2 separate regions of the Homo sapiens genome follow, and region 1 is linked to region 2. The links come from fine-mapping of genetic effects on gene expression. Tissue or cell type: whole blood. Region 2 holds a variant in brackets; the other region holds the start of a gene. All regions are shown on one strand. Distances are between the middles of the regions.

The links. PIP is the estimated chance that this variant, and not a neighbour inherited with it, causes the effect.
Region 1: VAMP4 starts here. The variant in region 2 is fine-mapped to the expression of VAMP4 in whole blood (TOPMed, PIP 0.94).

Annotation. Positions count from the first base shown.
Region 1 is chr1:171,737,777-171,745,617 of GRCh38, reverse strand. It overlaps VAMP4 (vesicle associated membrane protein 4), which reads left to right and starts at 3,553. Exons shown (of 8, transcript NM_003762.5): 1 at 3,553-3,708; 2 at 7,155-7,269. The coding sequence starts at 7,204.
Region 2 is chr1:171,683,273-171,691,113 of GRCh38, reverse strand. It overlaps the pseudogene RPL4P3. Among named protein-coding and RNA genes, the nearest start is that of MYOC, 35 kb to the right of the region's middle. The variant C/T (reference allele first, on the strand shown) is at 4,018.

The DNA.
Region 1 (7,841 bases), 55 kb before region 2:
TATACCCATGGGATAAATTTTAGAAGTAAAATTATTAGATCAAAAAGAACTTCATATAAAATTTTGATACATATAATTACCATGAAATTTTTAAAAATGCACCAATTTTTATACTCTTACTGTTTAAGAATGCTTGTTCCTCCCACGCTGCTCCCATACCACACATACACACACCCAATATTGTAGTATCAAATTTTTTTTATTTTTGCTATTGAGCTAACACAAAAGATCAAACTGTCAAATCAGGCTCAAATCAGAGATTTTACTCAGTATCAAGCTTTACTAATAGTTTCAAGGATACCAGTAATCCCCAGGTCCTTTCTTCTTGCTTTGGATGCATCCTGGCCCAGGACAGTAGATGTGGTTTCTAAATCAAGTGTACAGTCACCCCACTTACACAGAAGGAGCCAAATCAGTTACAAAACACTTCCATTTTATGCTACGTTACATAACTTCCGCGGTATTTTCCAGTTAATCATACCCCTGAAATCCGCATTGATTCTTTTTTGTTTTGTGAGAGGGAGTCTCATTCTGTTGACCAGGATGGAGGGCGGTGGCGCGATCTCTGCTCACTGCAACCTCCGCATCTCCAGTGCAAGCTATTCTTCTGCCTCAGCCTCCTGAGTAGCTGGTGTTACAAGTGTACACCACCACACTCAGCTAATTTTTGTAGTTTTGGTAGAGACGGGGTTTTGCCATGTTGGCCAGGCTGGTAACTCCTGACCTCAAGTGATCCACCTGCCTCAGCCTCCCAAAGTGCTGGAATTACCACATCGATTCTTAATGTGTTTACCATAAACAATCCCAGCCCTGGGACATCCTGTTAGAGGAATTCCGTAAATATGGACTCTCTTGCTAGCAAATGCCATTAGTTTGTTTGCCAGGAGGTCTGTAATTAGTATATACTTTATATTTTATAAAAATCACATGCTTTTTTGCTTGCTTTAACCTTGCTTTCCTGAGAGTATTTCCCTACGAAGGGAGAGACTGGATTGCAGATCTTCTGCTCAACTCCTTCTTTCTCAGTCACTGATAGATGAAAAATGGTATTTCCTTGTTCACTTTTACATTTTAAGTAATGTTGAACATTTAGCAACAAAATATTGAAAGCTAGAAGGGAGATGAATCAAGATGCAATTGCCTTAGCAGACTTGAAAAGTAGGAATCCCAAGCAGGCCATGAAGCAACCTGATACACACAGTGAAACCCTGTATAAGGCTCAGGAATTGGAAACACCACGTAAAGCTGAAGAGAGCATGATGTGAGCTATAAATACAGGCGGAATGGTATAAAGTCTGTTTAAGAATGAATCAGATGCTGAGATTCCCTTTGCTATCCCATCAAAAACCCAGAGATTTAGTCCTGAAAGACAGCAAAACGCTGATTCTCTAGCTAGGAGGACAGCAGGCCCTCTTAAGGATGAAGGTGTCATGTTGAAAAAGGGGAAAAGAAAATTAGAGGACTAACATCTGAATAACTGAAGCTCACTAAAAAGAAAATGGAGGAAATAAGTAACTCAAGTTGCTTGGAGTTCTGACTCTAAGCTCAGTGCTATTATAATCTTTTAGGCTTACTGGTATATTTGATTCATGTTAACTGTAAAATGACATTTTCTAAGTTTCACAAATATTGGGGTTAGTCAAAGGGACTTTGTTCAGGTGATTAAGGGTGGGGCTTGCATTACCCCTCTCCTAAGCGATCATTCCAAAATGACTGGCAGGACTAAAGAATTATGTTTAAAAAACAAAAAAACCCAAAGAATGGATTATCTGTAAAAGCTATGCAATGACGTGCCTGTTAGAGCTCACTGACCACACCTTAAGTTGTCTAAGAGATGAGGCTATAACTAGCTAAACTCTAATTGGCTAAGGCACCAAAGCCAGAAAATAGCCCATAACATGCAAATATACAGACATAAAATCAACTGTAAGTGCTGGGCACAGCTGCTCATGCCTGTAATCCCAGCTACTTGGGAGGCAGAGGCAGGAAGATCACTTTAGCTCAGGAGTTCAGAGCTGCTGTGCGCTATGATTGTGTCACTGCACTCCAGCCTGGGGGAAGAAGTGAGACTTCATCTCAAAAAAAAAAAAAAGATCAGCTGTAGAAGAAAAAATAATGTCAGGGTTACCTGTGGAGTCTGGGGGTAGACCCACTATCACACCTAGACAGGGATACAAACCATGAGAGGCTTCTCTTCTAAGTGGGCCGTTTCAGTCCAAGTTGCTGACTTGGACAGCAACTTGGACTGAATAAACACAGGCAACTGAGTTTAGCATTAAGCTTTCAGAACCTTCAACTGACAACTCAACGGCTGTTTCTAAATCTCAGAACATTTAAATCAGAATCTAGGTAGCACGTGGGCACCTACGTAGTTTTAAAAGCTTTCCAAGTGATTCAACTCCAAGTGAATCAGAGTGGAGCATCGTTGCCTTAGTCATGGCATCTTTCAAATTCGTTAGTACATTTTTACATAAAAATAAACATCAAACAAAAGAAGAACAACTTTTTGGTAAGAGGGTGTCTATTCTTTCCTTTCCTTTAGTGTCCGCAGATCTTTCCTCCTGCTGTTTTCTTGTCTACTCTTGTTCTTGAACACCCCCTCTTATTTTTATGTCTTTAGAAAGTGCCTGGCACAGTATTTCAGACAGTTAAAATACTGTATCAACAAAGGACCCATAGATACTGTATTAATTTTAAAAGATGTGTAGTGAATATGATTCAATGAGTAAAATAATCCAGCTGGGGCGTGGGAGGAACGGATAATAAAACAAATAAGAGAACGGAAAAACAAAATTAGGAATTGTTTCTGGTAGACAGCTACTGCGGGCGTGGAGATCTAAACATGATACCAAATTGGGCGGAGGGGGAGGGAGTGAGGAAGGAATGGGCAGAGTGGCGGAATGGCCTGGCGAGGGCGATTTCCTGAAGGCTTTCAGGTTACAACTAAGGGATACCGGGAAAAGAACACCGAGCCCTCGTCCCGTATCTATCTAAACTAGCCGTGTTAACTTTAAGTCAATCTCCTCTCTGAACCAGATATTCCTCCTATCTAAAGGGAGGAGCCTGGCCTTAACATCTCTTTCCAAGTCTAGCTCTAATTCTGTAAACAGGGGATCAAACAGATCTCCTTTCTTCAGAAAAGGCCCCAGACGAACCCGAAGCAGGTCCTCGAGCTGCGAGCCACTCTCCACTTGCCACTCAACGTAGTCAGCCAGAGGGACGGATGTGCCACCAAGCACCACCTTCTTTCTAACGCCTCATCACCCCAGCCACGCACTCCGGCGCGGCGCCCAGTCCCGAGCGGTTCTCGGAAGTTTCCCACTCCTCCCCTAATCGCCCTCCACGCACGCCGGATCACGACCGGAACGTGGACAACCAGTGGTTGTTCCTCCCCTAAAGCACAGCATAAATTTGGAGAGATGCATCTAAACTGCGTGTGGGTTCGGGCTCTTTTAGGTGAATAGGGCTCGGCGGATCGACTTCCTCGATTATCTCCGTGCCCTGGACCCGCCCCCTCCGCCTGGCGCCAGGCCGCCGAGCGCCGATCGGCTCGATGAGCGGAGGCGCTGCTGCGGCGCTGCGGCCGACGCCGGGTCCGCACCAACTGTCTCCCCCTCCCAGCTTCTTACCTCGGCTTCCTACTCCTTCCCCCGCCCGCCCAGCACCGCCAGCCCGGGAGAGCTGCCGGGAGTTCCCCGGGAGCCTCAGGTACTGGCGCTGGCCTGTTCGCAGCGGGAGGGGCTGGTGTGAGGAGGAAGGAAACGAAGAAGACGCCCCTGCCTTGCCGCCCCCCGACGTCCTAGTCGGGCTGGTCGGCGGGCCTCGGGGATCTAGGAAGGGACCCCGGAGTGGGAAAAGGTTGGGGCCGGGGGTGCCGTGAGGAAGGAAGACGAGGACAGGGGTATGCGGACGAGGAGCAGTTGAGGGAGAGAAGAATTGGAATTGAGGGGTACTCTGGGGTGATGGGAAGAGAACAGTACCATGGATGGGGAAGGTTTGTTAAGAGTGGGATGTAGTGAGGAATTCCAGGGGGTACAATGGGGCAGGAAGGGCCAGCGTTAGGAGCAGATATATCGTGGGACGTGGCCTGGTGTGACAGATTGGGTGTGGGGGGTGAACGGAGCTGCCTGAAATTGTGTATTTAAAGGGCCCGGGGGAAAGAGCGCCAACCCTGCTGTGTTTATAATGACCGGAAGGTGGGGGTGAATCGTTACACTTGACAGGTTTTGCAAATAATATCTCCGGTCTGTGTCCATCCAAGTCACTTTATTTCTGTGAAACTGCATCAAGCAAGAAGGCTGATGACAGACAAGGAAGACGAATCAGAAAGAGAATGGAGGCTGGGAAAAGGAGAGCCTTTGCCCAGATTCAAAGCTATTGACTAGATAACGTACTACTTACAAAAACGCACACATAGACATTTAAGTATATGCTGATGTATAAGAAGCATACGGTGATGTGACTCATTTGAGTGAATTGTATAGTGGTGGTCTATCCTCAATGTGGAAGTACATGATGGCTCTCTTATTTACATGTATACCTAGTCACAAACAGCTGAATTCACATGTCTTTTTTTGTAGGAGAAATCTTAGGCAGACTATATCCTAGTCTACTTTCTGAGCATGATTTATTTCTACTAGTTGTTTGATACACATATCAGTTACTAATAATCAGTTGCAAATAACATCAAAGTTCATCAAGGTAGCTAATTAATCTGCCTACTGCTTTGCTGATGGGCTATTTGTTGCACATGGTTTCTTGGGATTAAGAGACCTGAATATGGTGTTTGCTCATCCTTAAGATTGTAGTTTTACTGTATGTCTTATAAAGGCATTATATAAGTCTGCCCGTTGTTTGCTTTGGGATGTTGAGGCAGCCTCATTGCAGGGGTTAAAATCTAAATACAGATAATAGTTAAAAGCACAAGTTCTTCAGTAATTTGCCTTGTCATCTGTTTTTCCATGCATTCTGTTACATTTCTGCATGAATGAAGTATTCTGACATCAAAGTATGAGGAATAAAAGGGCCAGATGTATGTGACAGAAATATTGTGGAACCAAGAACTCAAGAGCTGTTACTCAGGCAGCAAGAATTTGGTTTTTGTTACAAGTGAATAATTTCTGATTTGGAAGCATTTCTTATCAAAGAAAAGTGTGTCCTTTGGTTTTGACAAGCAGCTGACTTAAAACATTACTTTTATTTGGTTCGTGAAGCCAGATCCTGGGATTATTCTTTTTTAAGTGTATATCATTAACAAACAAACTGATGTCTAACTATACCTAATTTAAAGGTCTAAGTGTTTCTTCTTATGGAAAAGGAAGCAGGACTATTGGGTTGTTAGCAGGAAGTGAGTCTTTCTAGAACAGAATTCTGTAAACCTGATGGGCAACTAATTGAACAAATGATTAAAACTGATAATGCACAGCCATTGATTAATTTAGGCCTGTATCTCTGCTGTTTCAATGAATGTAGTGACTAACGTTATCGTTACTAAACTTTAGTTTTCTCCTAGTTTCTTGGTGCCTACTTTAAAGAAGCATCATAAAGAGTAAAAGAAAATGCATGTGTATCACTGAGCACCGTGCCTAGCACATAGTAAAACATTCAGTATTTCTGAGCTATCCTGAATTGATGGGTATTCATCTACCATCTAGTCAAAAATACTGAAAATTCATTATTTGCATAGAAGAACTTTTTCGCAAAAAAAAATTTTAGTATGTTGCATACACAAGCATTTTCCTGGAAAGTCACAATGCATATTAGCATATAACAGGATGTGAGTCATTCTGTAGCAAAGAAAACTAGCTTTGTTTAATCCAGTTGTTTTGATAGAAAAAAATTGAGTTTCTCCTATTCTCTCTCAACACAGACCCCCAAAAGATTTCTCCTCACAAGCAAGGAGGAAATTCTGCAGCAGATTCTCCAGCTGGGTGTCCTCTAATTCAATTCTGATACTGTATACCTAGAGATAGCATCAGATCCTGCAGGTTGAGGGCTTAATCCTACAAGATTCCCCCCACTTCAGGTGCCAATCACAAGTTCCAGGTTGTTTTACCTGTGTTTCCAACTGACTGGCTATAAATCAGAGTTCCCACAATCCCTTCCTTGTGTTCAGTTTATTTGCTAGAGTGGCTTACAGAATTAAGAGAAACACTTTGTTTACTGGTTTATTATAAAGGATAGAGATCAACAGCCAGATGGAAGAGGTGCATAGGGCAAGGGGTACAGAGCTTCTGTGCCCTCTCCAGGTGTGCCACCGTCCAGGAACTCTCTACTTGTTCAGCTTTTGGGAAGCTCTCTGAACCCTGTCCTTTTTGGGTTTTATGGAGTCTTCCTTAGTAGGCATGATTGATTACATCATTGGCTATTAGAAATCAGTTCAACCTTGAGCCCTCCTCCCCTTCCAGGAAGCTAGGGGGTGGGGCTGTAAAGTCCCAGTCTTCTAATCATGCCTAGGTTTTTCTGTGACCAGCCTCCATCTGGAATCTATCTGGGGGCTAAGCTACCAGTCATCTTATTAGCATACACAAGACACATCACTGCAGCGATTCCAAGGATATGTCAGGAAATGGGGATTAAGACCAAATGAGTATATTTTGTAAATCACGATATCACACCAGTACTTACCAAACTTACCCCTTTTCATGGAGTACCAATGGGACATTATAGTTTGCAGAATATTTTTGCATGTATTATCCAATTTGACCGTCCCAACTCTGCAGAAGCCTGAAAATCAGTATTTTACACCTGAGGAAACTGAATCATTGCTTAAGCAACCAACTAAAAGTGAGAGAAATAGGCATGTTCTCCTGTCTTCTGACTCCAACTTTAAATTGTAAAGCATTTAATGTCTCAGTGAGACGTCCTCCCTCTACTCTCTGCTCTTTCATTTTATAAAAATCTTAAATCACTCATATCCTACACATGTTCTCTTAGGGCAATTACATCCATTTTCTCATAATTTTAACTATTTCTTAGGTGTTGAGGTCTAGCATGGAGGCCCCAGTCACTGGAGTGGAACAAGTGAGAGGGCAGGAATTGAAGTCAGAAAAATGAGGGAGTCCCTGTCATACAGGGTTTCATGTACACTGTTTTAAGTACATTAGCTTATGCCCCAAAGTCTCAAATCTGATGAAATTTATTTTCTCTTTAAGGTGGTGACTATCCTGTTGAGAAGCAAAAGATACTTTGCAAGTAAAAAATATGCCTCCCAAGTTTAAGCGCCACCTCAATGATGATGATGTCACAGGTTCTGTGAAAAGTGAAAGGGTAAGTTCGGAATCTTAAGCTTTAAAAACAAAAGATTCAAAATATGTTTTCATTCCCTTTGTGAATAATAGAAGAAAAACCATCCGGGCGTGGTTGCTCATGCCTGCAATCGCCGCACTTGGGACGCTGAAGCAGAATAGCTTGAGCCCAGAAGTTCAAGACTGTCTTGGACAACCCAGGGAGACCCTGTCTCTATAAATAATTTTTAAAAAATTAATGGGGCATGGTAGCACATGCCTATGGTTCCAGCTATTCAAGAGGCTAAGGCAGGAGGATCACCTGAGCCTGGGAGATGAAGGCTGTGGTGAACTGTGATCTGCACTCCAGCCTGAGCAACAGAGCAAGACCCTGTCTCAAAAATTAATTAACTAATAATAATAACAACAGAAAAATCAAAAGCTTATGACTATATTCTAATCCTAATTGTTTTCTTCATAGCAAATGTATTTAAAAACATGTTACTTAGATTGGTGACAACTGAATTCTACTTCCATTATTGATCAAATCATTATTCTCATAGCTTCTTTCTAGTTTTTGAAAGGGAGTTTTATACAAATACACAATATCTTATT
Region 2 (7,841 bases):
ACCAAAGACAAAAACCACATGATTATCTCAAGAGATGCAGAAAAGGCCTTTGACAAAATTCAACAACCCTGCAAGCTAAAAACTCTCAATAAATTAGGTATTGACGGGACGTATCTCAAAATAATAAGAGCTATCTATGGCAAACCCACAGCCAATATCATACTGAATGGGCAAAAACTGGAAGCATTCCCTTTGAAAACTGGCACAAGACAGGGATGCCCTCTCTCACCACTCCTATTCAACATAGTGTTGGAAGTTCTGGCCAGGGCAATTAGGCAGGAGAAGGAAATAAAGGGTATTCAATTAGGAAAAGAGGAAGTCAAATTGTCCCTGTTTGCAGATGACATGATTGTATATCTAGAAAACCCCATTGTCTCAGCCCAAAATCTCCTTAAGCTGATAAGCAACTTCAGCAAAGTCTCAGGATACAAAATCAATGTACAAAAATCACAAGCATTCCTATACACCAACAACAGACAAACAGAGAGCCAAATCATGAGTGAACTCCCATTCACAATTGCTTCAAAGAGAATAAAATACCTAGGAATCCAACTTACAAGGGATGTGAAGGACCTCTTCAAGGAGAACTACAAACCACTGCTCAAGGAAATAAAAGAGGATACAAACAAATGGAAGAACATTCCATGCTCATGGGTAGGAAGAATCAATATCGTGAAAATGGCCATACTGCCCAAGGTAATTTACAGATTTAATGCCATCCCCATCAAGCTACCAAAGACTTTCTTCACAGAATTGGAAAAAACTACTTTAAAGTTCATATGGAACCAAAAAAGAGCCCGCATCGCCAAGTCAATCCTAAGCCAAAAGAACAAAGCTGGAGGCATCACACTACCTGACTTCAAACTATACTACAAGGCTACAGTAACCAAAACAGCATGGTACTGGTACCAAAACAGACATATAGATCAATGGAACAGAACAGAGCCCTCAGAAATAACGCCGCATATCTACAACTATCTGATCTTTGACAAACCTGACAAAAACAAGCAATGGGGAAAGGATTCCCTATTTAATAAATGGTGCTGGGAAAACTGGCTAGCCATATGTAGAAAGCTGAAATGATCCCTTCCTTACACCTTATACAAAAATCAATTTAAGATGGATTAAAGACTTAAATGTTAGACCTAAAACCATAAAAACCCTAGAAGAAAACCTAGGCATTACCATTCAGGACATAGGCATGGACAAGGACTTCATGTCTAAAACACCAAAAGCAATGACAACTAAAGCCAAAACTGACAGATGGGACCTAATTAAACTAAAGAGCTTCTGCACAGCAAAAGAAACTACCATCAGAGTGAACAGGCAACCTACAAAATGGGAGAAAATTTTCGCAACCTACTCATCTGACAAAGGGCTAATATCCAGAATCTACAATGAACTCAAACAAATTTACAAGAAAAAAACAAACAACCCCATCAAAAAGTGGGCAAAGGACATGAACAGACACTTCTCAAAAGAAGACATTTATGCAGCCAAAAAACACATGAAAAAATCCTCACCATCACTGGCCATCAGAGAAATGCAAATCAAAACCACAATGAGATACCATCTCACACCATTTAGAATGGCAATCATTAAAAAGTCAGGAAACAACAGGTGCTGGAGAGGATGTGGAGAAATTGGAACACTTTTACACTGTTGGTGGGACTGTAAACTAGTTCAACCATTGTGGAAGTCAGTGTGGCAATTCCTCAGGGATCTAGAACTAGAAATACTATTTGACCCAGCCATCCCATTACTGGGTATATACCCAAAGGACTATAAATCATGCTGCTATAAAGACACATGGACATGTATGTTTATTGCAGCATTATTCACAATAGCAAAGACTTGGAACCAACCCAAATGTCCAACAATGATAGATTGGATTAAGAAAATGTGGCACATATACACCATGGAATACTATGCAGCCATAAAAAATGATGAGTTCATGTCCTTTGTAGGGACATGGATGAAATTGGAAATCATCATTCTCAGTAAACTATCGCAAGAACAAAAAACCAAACACCGCATATTCTCACTCATAGGTGGGAATTGAACAGTGAGAACACATGGACACAGGAAAGGGAACATCACACTCAAGGGACTGTTGTGGGGTTGGGGGAGAGGGGAGGGATAGCATTGGGAGATATATCTAATGCTAGATGACGAGTTAGTGGGTGCAGCGCACCAGCATGGCACATGTATACATATGTAGCTAACCTGCACATTGTGCACATGTACCCTAAAACTTAAAGTGTAATAATAATAAAGAAAAAAAAGGAAAAAAAAAAAAGAAAGAGATGCGTGTGTACAAAAAAAAAAAATGATGTACCACAAGAACTAAATTGATTTTGAGCACCTCAGCATCTGCAACAGGATGAAACCGATGCTTTTGGAATTCAGAAAGTCATAAAGAGAGAAAAGGCAAGAAAAGAAGTACAATTAAATGTGTTATGTATACAGTTAGGTCAGCCAAAAGGGGAGCAAGTTAAAATAATTTGCCAGGAAACAAATTGCAACACAAACATTAAGCCCTTCACTGAAGCAGTGAGGAGTAGAATTGATTGAAGAAAATCAGTGATGCAGAAGAGAGGTTCAAGAAGCTGCCACTGAACACAGAGGAAAAACATCAAAACTGTAAATGGACAGTGTGATGTTAGATCTAGGAGACCAAAAAAAAAGGCCTACTAAGAATTACATAGTGTTCCTGTGGAAGAAATCCAAAAAGAGTGAAACAGAGCAATCATCAGAAACATTATTCTTTGATGTATTCTTTAATGAAAACTTAAGTTTTAATAAAGTCCTTCAGGAGAAAAAAAAATTATCAAAAGACACATTAAGTTACCTTGTAGTAGAGTATATGAATAGTAAGATTAAAGGGGTAAATTCTATAAGCATTGAGACCTGAAAAATGTGTTACCTACAAGGAAGCAAAAATTAAGCTTGCCTCCATCTTTTCTGCCACTGAATTATAGAATACTAAAACAGCATCTGTAGATTTTTGAGAGGATACAGCTGTGACTCAAGAATTTTTATACCAAACCAGTTGTCACTTAAGAATGAAAACCAGGCCAGGCACGGTGACTCAAGCCTGTAATCCCAGCACTTTGGGAGGCCAAAGCAGACGGATCACGAGGTCAGGAGATCGAGACCATCCTGGCTAACACGGTGAAACCCCATCTCTACTAAAAATACAAAAAAAAAAAAAAATTAGCCAGGTGTGGTGGAGGGCACCTGTAGTCCCAGCTACTCAGGAGGCTGAGGAAGGAGAATGGCGTGAACCCGGGAGGTGGAGCTTGCAGTGAGCCGATATCGTGCCACTGCACTCCAGCCTGGGCGACAGAGCCAGACTCCATCTCAAAAAAAAAAAAAAAAAAAAAGAAGAATGAAAACCATTGAGGATTCTATGGACCATTGGAAAATTTTTTAAAAAGAATGCAAACCAGGCTGGGCTCAGTGGCTCTCACCCGTAATTCCAATACTTTAGGAGGCTGAAGCAGGAGGATCACTTGAGCCCAGGAGTTTGAGACCAGCCTGGGCAACACAGTGAGAACCTGTCTCTACAAAAACTAAAAAAAGTAGCCAAGCATGGTGGCGCATGCCTGGAGTCCCAGCTACTCAGGAGGCTGAGGTGGGAGAATCATTTGAGCTCTGGAGGTCAAGGTTGCAGTAAGCCATGATGGCACCACTGCATTCCAGCCTGGGTGACAGAGCAAGACCCTGTCTTTAAAAAGAAAAAAAATGAAAACCACAAACACAATATTCTTAAAAATATGAGAGTTCAGAAAACATAACGTCCTTGTCTCTTTTCTTGATAAAAATTACTGGAAAATTTACATTATACTGGCAGCTAAGGGAGAAATCAAAATTGAGAGTTCAAAAACAGATAATTCTTCTACTTGAAACCCTTTGATGAAGTCTCATTGCACTTACAGTGAAAACTGAACTGCTTACCTTCCTTGATCTCATCAGTTGCTGCCAGGGTAGCATTCTGTTTTACATCACAGCACA[C/T]TCAAAATAATTCAAGGAGAATTTAATAAAGGTAAATTTATAAAGGTAGTAGGGCTTAAAGAAACTACAAAGGATAGTACACCTTGAAGGGTTGAGGGAAGGCAGAGGTTACTAAAACCTGGAAGGACAAAGTCACATGCAGAGGGCTACCTTGACTTTTGGCCAGGGGATGCAGCCAGCCTAAGGTGATCTTACAGGGAGGATGCCAGGGGAATAAATACCCTGGCCTAGTTGTTGTTTTATTCCCTGTGACCTGATGCTAGGACTCCGCTTTTTTTTTTTTTTTTTTTTTTTTGAGACAAAGTCTCACTCTGTCGCTCAGGCTGGAGTGCAGTGGTGCAATCTTGGCTCACTGCAAACTCCGCCTCCCAGGTTCAAGCGATTCTCCCACTTCAGCCTCCTGAGTAGCTGGAATTACAGGCACGTGCCACCACACCAGGCTAATTTTTGTATTTTTAGTAGAGATGGAGTTTCAACATATTGGCTGGCCAGCCCAGTCTCAAACTCTTGACCTCAAGTGATCCCACCTCGCCCTCCCAAAGTGCTGGGATAACAGGCATGAGCCACCACACCCAGCCAGACTCCCCTATTTTTGAACCCCATTGAAAAACAAAGGGCAAGGAATCCTAGCGGTGTAAGCCACACCGGTCACCATCCTGAAAGGAGGGTAGAAAGTGCATCTGATGCCCAGATTCCATTCCCCAGCTATTATTGTGGATGTTGTTAACGTTGGCTGCCAATGGCTCACATTTGCCCCCTTCTCTGGAGAACTGCTGTCAGCCAATGGGAGCCACCTCACCTCTGAATTATGTCCCATTCCTGGAGGTACCTTGGAGCCAATGGTAGACTGATATTGGGGTCAAAAAGGCTGAACCCCTTATCTGAAGGTGGGACAACTCCATGTTGTGATATATGCTTCAGATGCCACACACACCCTTGAATCTGGCCAAGGCTAGACTTTACCTGAGACCATTTTTGCTTGGCCCTTTCCCTTCATTGTCTTGCATCTCTTAGTCTCTTAGATAGTTGAACACTCCTTCAATAAATCACATGTACCTGAATCCCTGTAGCCAACTGTTTCTAAAGAGCCCAACTGAAGAGGGTTAGTACCAGTATTGGTCCCAGAAAACAGGTTCTAAGGATGGGATTCTGGAATTAGATCACCCACTGAAGAGAGAGCAATAAGGATCACATCACTGGTGGTAGGTGGGGTAAGTACTGATATCAGTAGTCTCTGACATGCAGTAGCAGTGCCATTCATTGCTAAAGTGTTCACCTCTGGTGAAGTGAGAGGGATACAAGTAGAGGGGAATGTGAAAGTCATGCCATCTCTGGCATTTGAGAGGAACAGGAGATACGGTCATTTTAAGGATTTTGACATGGAGCGGCTGCTGCTAAACTCCATTCTTAGCTTGGAAAAAAAGAAAACGACAGATGTGACAGATGCAGGGCAATCAATTGTGAATTTAAAGCAAGATATGAGAATCAGAGATCTCTAATTCTCTAATGGAGAGTAGTTAAAGAGACCTTTATTTCCTGAAGCTGAAGAGCAGAGAGAGTTGAAGACCAGGCCCAGAATTAGTTTTAAGGTGGCAGAATTTCAAAGAAGGATGAATTTTCGGCCTCAGCAAGTTTCCTATGCCAAAGTCAGGATCTTGTTAGGGAAAGAACAGGGCCTAGAGACTTGGGATGGGATATCTGGGTAGTCGCCCCTAAGGGTCTTTCTTTTCCTTTTTTTTTTTTTTTTTTTTGAGACAGGATTTCACTCTGTTGCCTAGGCCGGAATGCAGTGGCACCATCACAGCTCACTGCAGCCTCAACATCCTGTGTTCAAGCAATCCTCCTGCCTCAGCCTCCTGAGTAGTCAGGTCTACAGGCACATGCCACCATGCCCAGCTAATTGTTTTGTTTTTTATTGAGATGAGGTCTTGCTATGTTACTTAGGCTGATCTCAAACTCCTGGGCTCAAACAATCCTTCTGCCTCAGCTTCCCAAAGTGCTGAGATTACAGACATGAGTCACTGCACTCAGCCTACTTGAGGATCTTGAATGCTCAGATTCCCCAGAACTCCCTGGACCTGCAGAAGTGGCCCAGTCCCCCTTGTTGAAACATAAAACCCCATTTCCCCCTTCACTCTTGCTTGCTTGAAAGCTATTCAGTAGCCTCAAAACAAGGCAAGTAACTTCCAGGAGGATGCTGGCCCATCTCAGGATCTGCCCTCTACTACCTACCTGGCCACCAGACCCATAACCCCTCTGGAATCAAGGCTCAAGAGAGAAGTTTAATGATTTGCCCGGCACTTACACAGGTGATGTGTGACAGAGGCGAGGCTGTAATCCAAAGTGGAACAAGTGATCAGATTCTTTACGGGAAGCTGCAGACACTAAGGCAGTTTTCCTTTCTAAATAAATCTCTCAGACTTTCACTGAGTCAATAGAGATGGGAAACAGGTGATAAACAAGTATCATACACTCAGATTATTAAGTTACTACCCAGTCCATTTTTTTCATTAACCTTCTTTCCCATATGTAAGGCTGGCTACATAATTTCCAGGACCCAACGCAAAATTAAAATGTGGGGCACATTTTTAAAAGCACAGAGAACTTTGCCTGTGGCAACAGCCATGGTGAGAGGAGCGTGGCTCTCTCCTCTCCACCATGGCATGTGCTCGCCTACTAATATCGGTGTACTCTGAAAGTGGGGAGTCATCTGGCAAAAATGTCACTTTGCCTGCTGTATTCAAGGCTCCTATTCGACCAGATATTGTGAACTTTGTTCACACCAACTTGCACAAAAACAACAGACAGCCCTATGCTGTCAGTGAATTAGCAGGTCGTCAGACCAGTGCTGAATCTTGGGGTACCGGCAGAGCTGTGGCTCAAATTCCCAGAGTTCAAGGTGTTATGGGACTCACCATTCTGGCCAGGGTGCTTCTGGAAACATGTGTTGTGGAGGCCGAATGTTGGCACCAACCAAAACCTGATGCCGTTAGGATCATAGAGTGAACACAACCCAAAAATGATATGCCGTCTGTTCTGCCCTGGCTGCCTCAGCCTTATCAGCACTGGTCATGTCTAAAGGTCATAGTATTGAGGAAGTTCCTGAACTTCCTTTGGTAGTCGAAGATAAAGTTGAAGGGTACAAGAAGACCAAGGAGGCTGTTTCGCTTCTTAAGAAATTTAAAGCCTGGAATGATATCAAAAAGGACTATGCCTCTCAGCGAATGAGAGCTGGCAAGGGCAAAATGAGAAACCGTCATTGTATCCAGTGCACAGGCCCCTACATCATCTATAATGAGGATAATGGTATCATCAAGGCCTTCAGAAACATCCCTGGAATTACTCTGCTTAATGTAAGCAAACTGAACATTTTGAAGCTTGCTCCTGGTGGGCATGTGGGACTTTTCTGCATTTGGACCAAAAGTGCTTTCCAGAAGTTAGATGAATTTAATGGCACTTGGCGTAAAGCTTCTTCTCTCAAGAGTAACTACAATCTTCCCATCCATAAGATGATCAATACAGATCTTAGCAGAATCTTGAAAAGCCCAGAAATCCAAAGAGCCCTTTGAGCACCACGCAACAAGATTCATCGCAGAGTCCTAAAGAAGAACCCACTGAAAAACCTGAGAATCATGTTGAAGCTAAACCTACATGCAAAGACCATGCATGTGTCAGAACACCATTCTTCGCCAGGCCAGGAATCACAAGCTCTGGGTGGATAAGGCAGCAGCAGCAGCTGAAGCACTAGAAGCCAAATCGGATGAGAAGGGGGTTGCAGGCAAGAAGCCTGTGGTAGGTAAGAAAGGAAAGAAGATTGCTGTTGG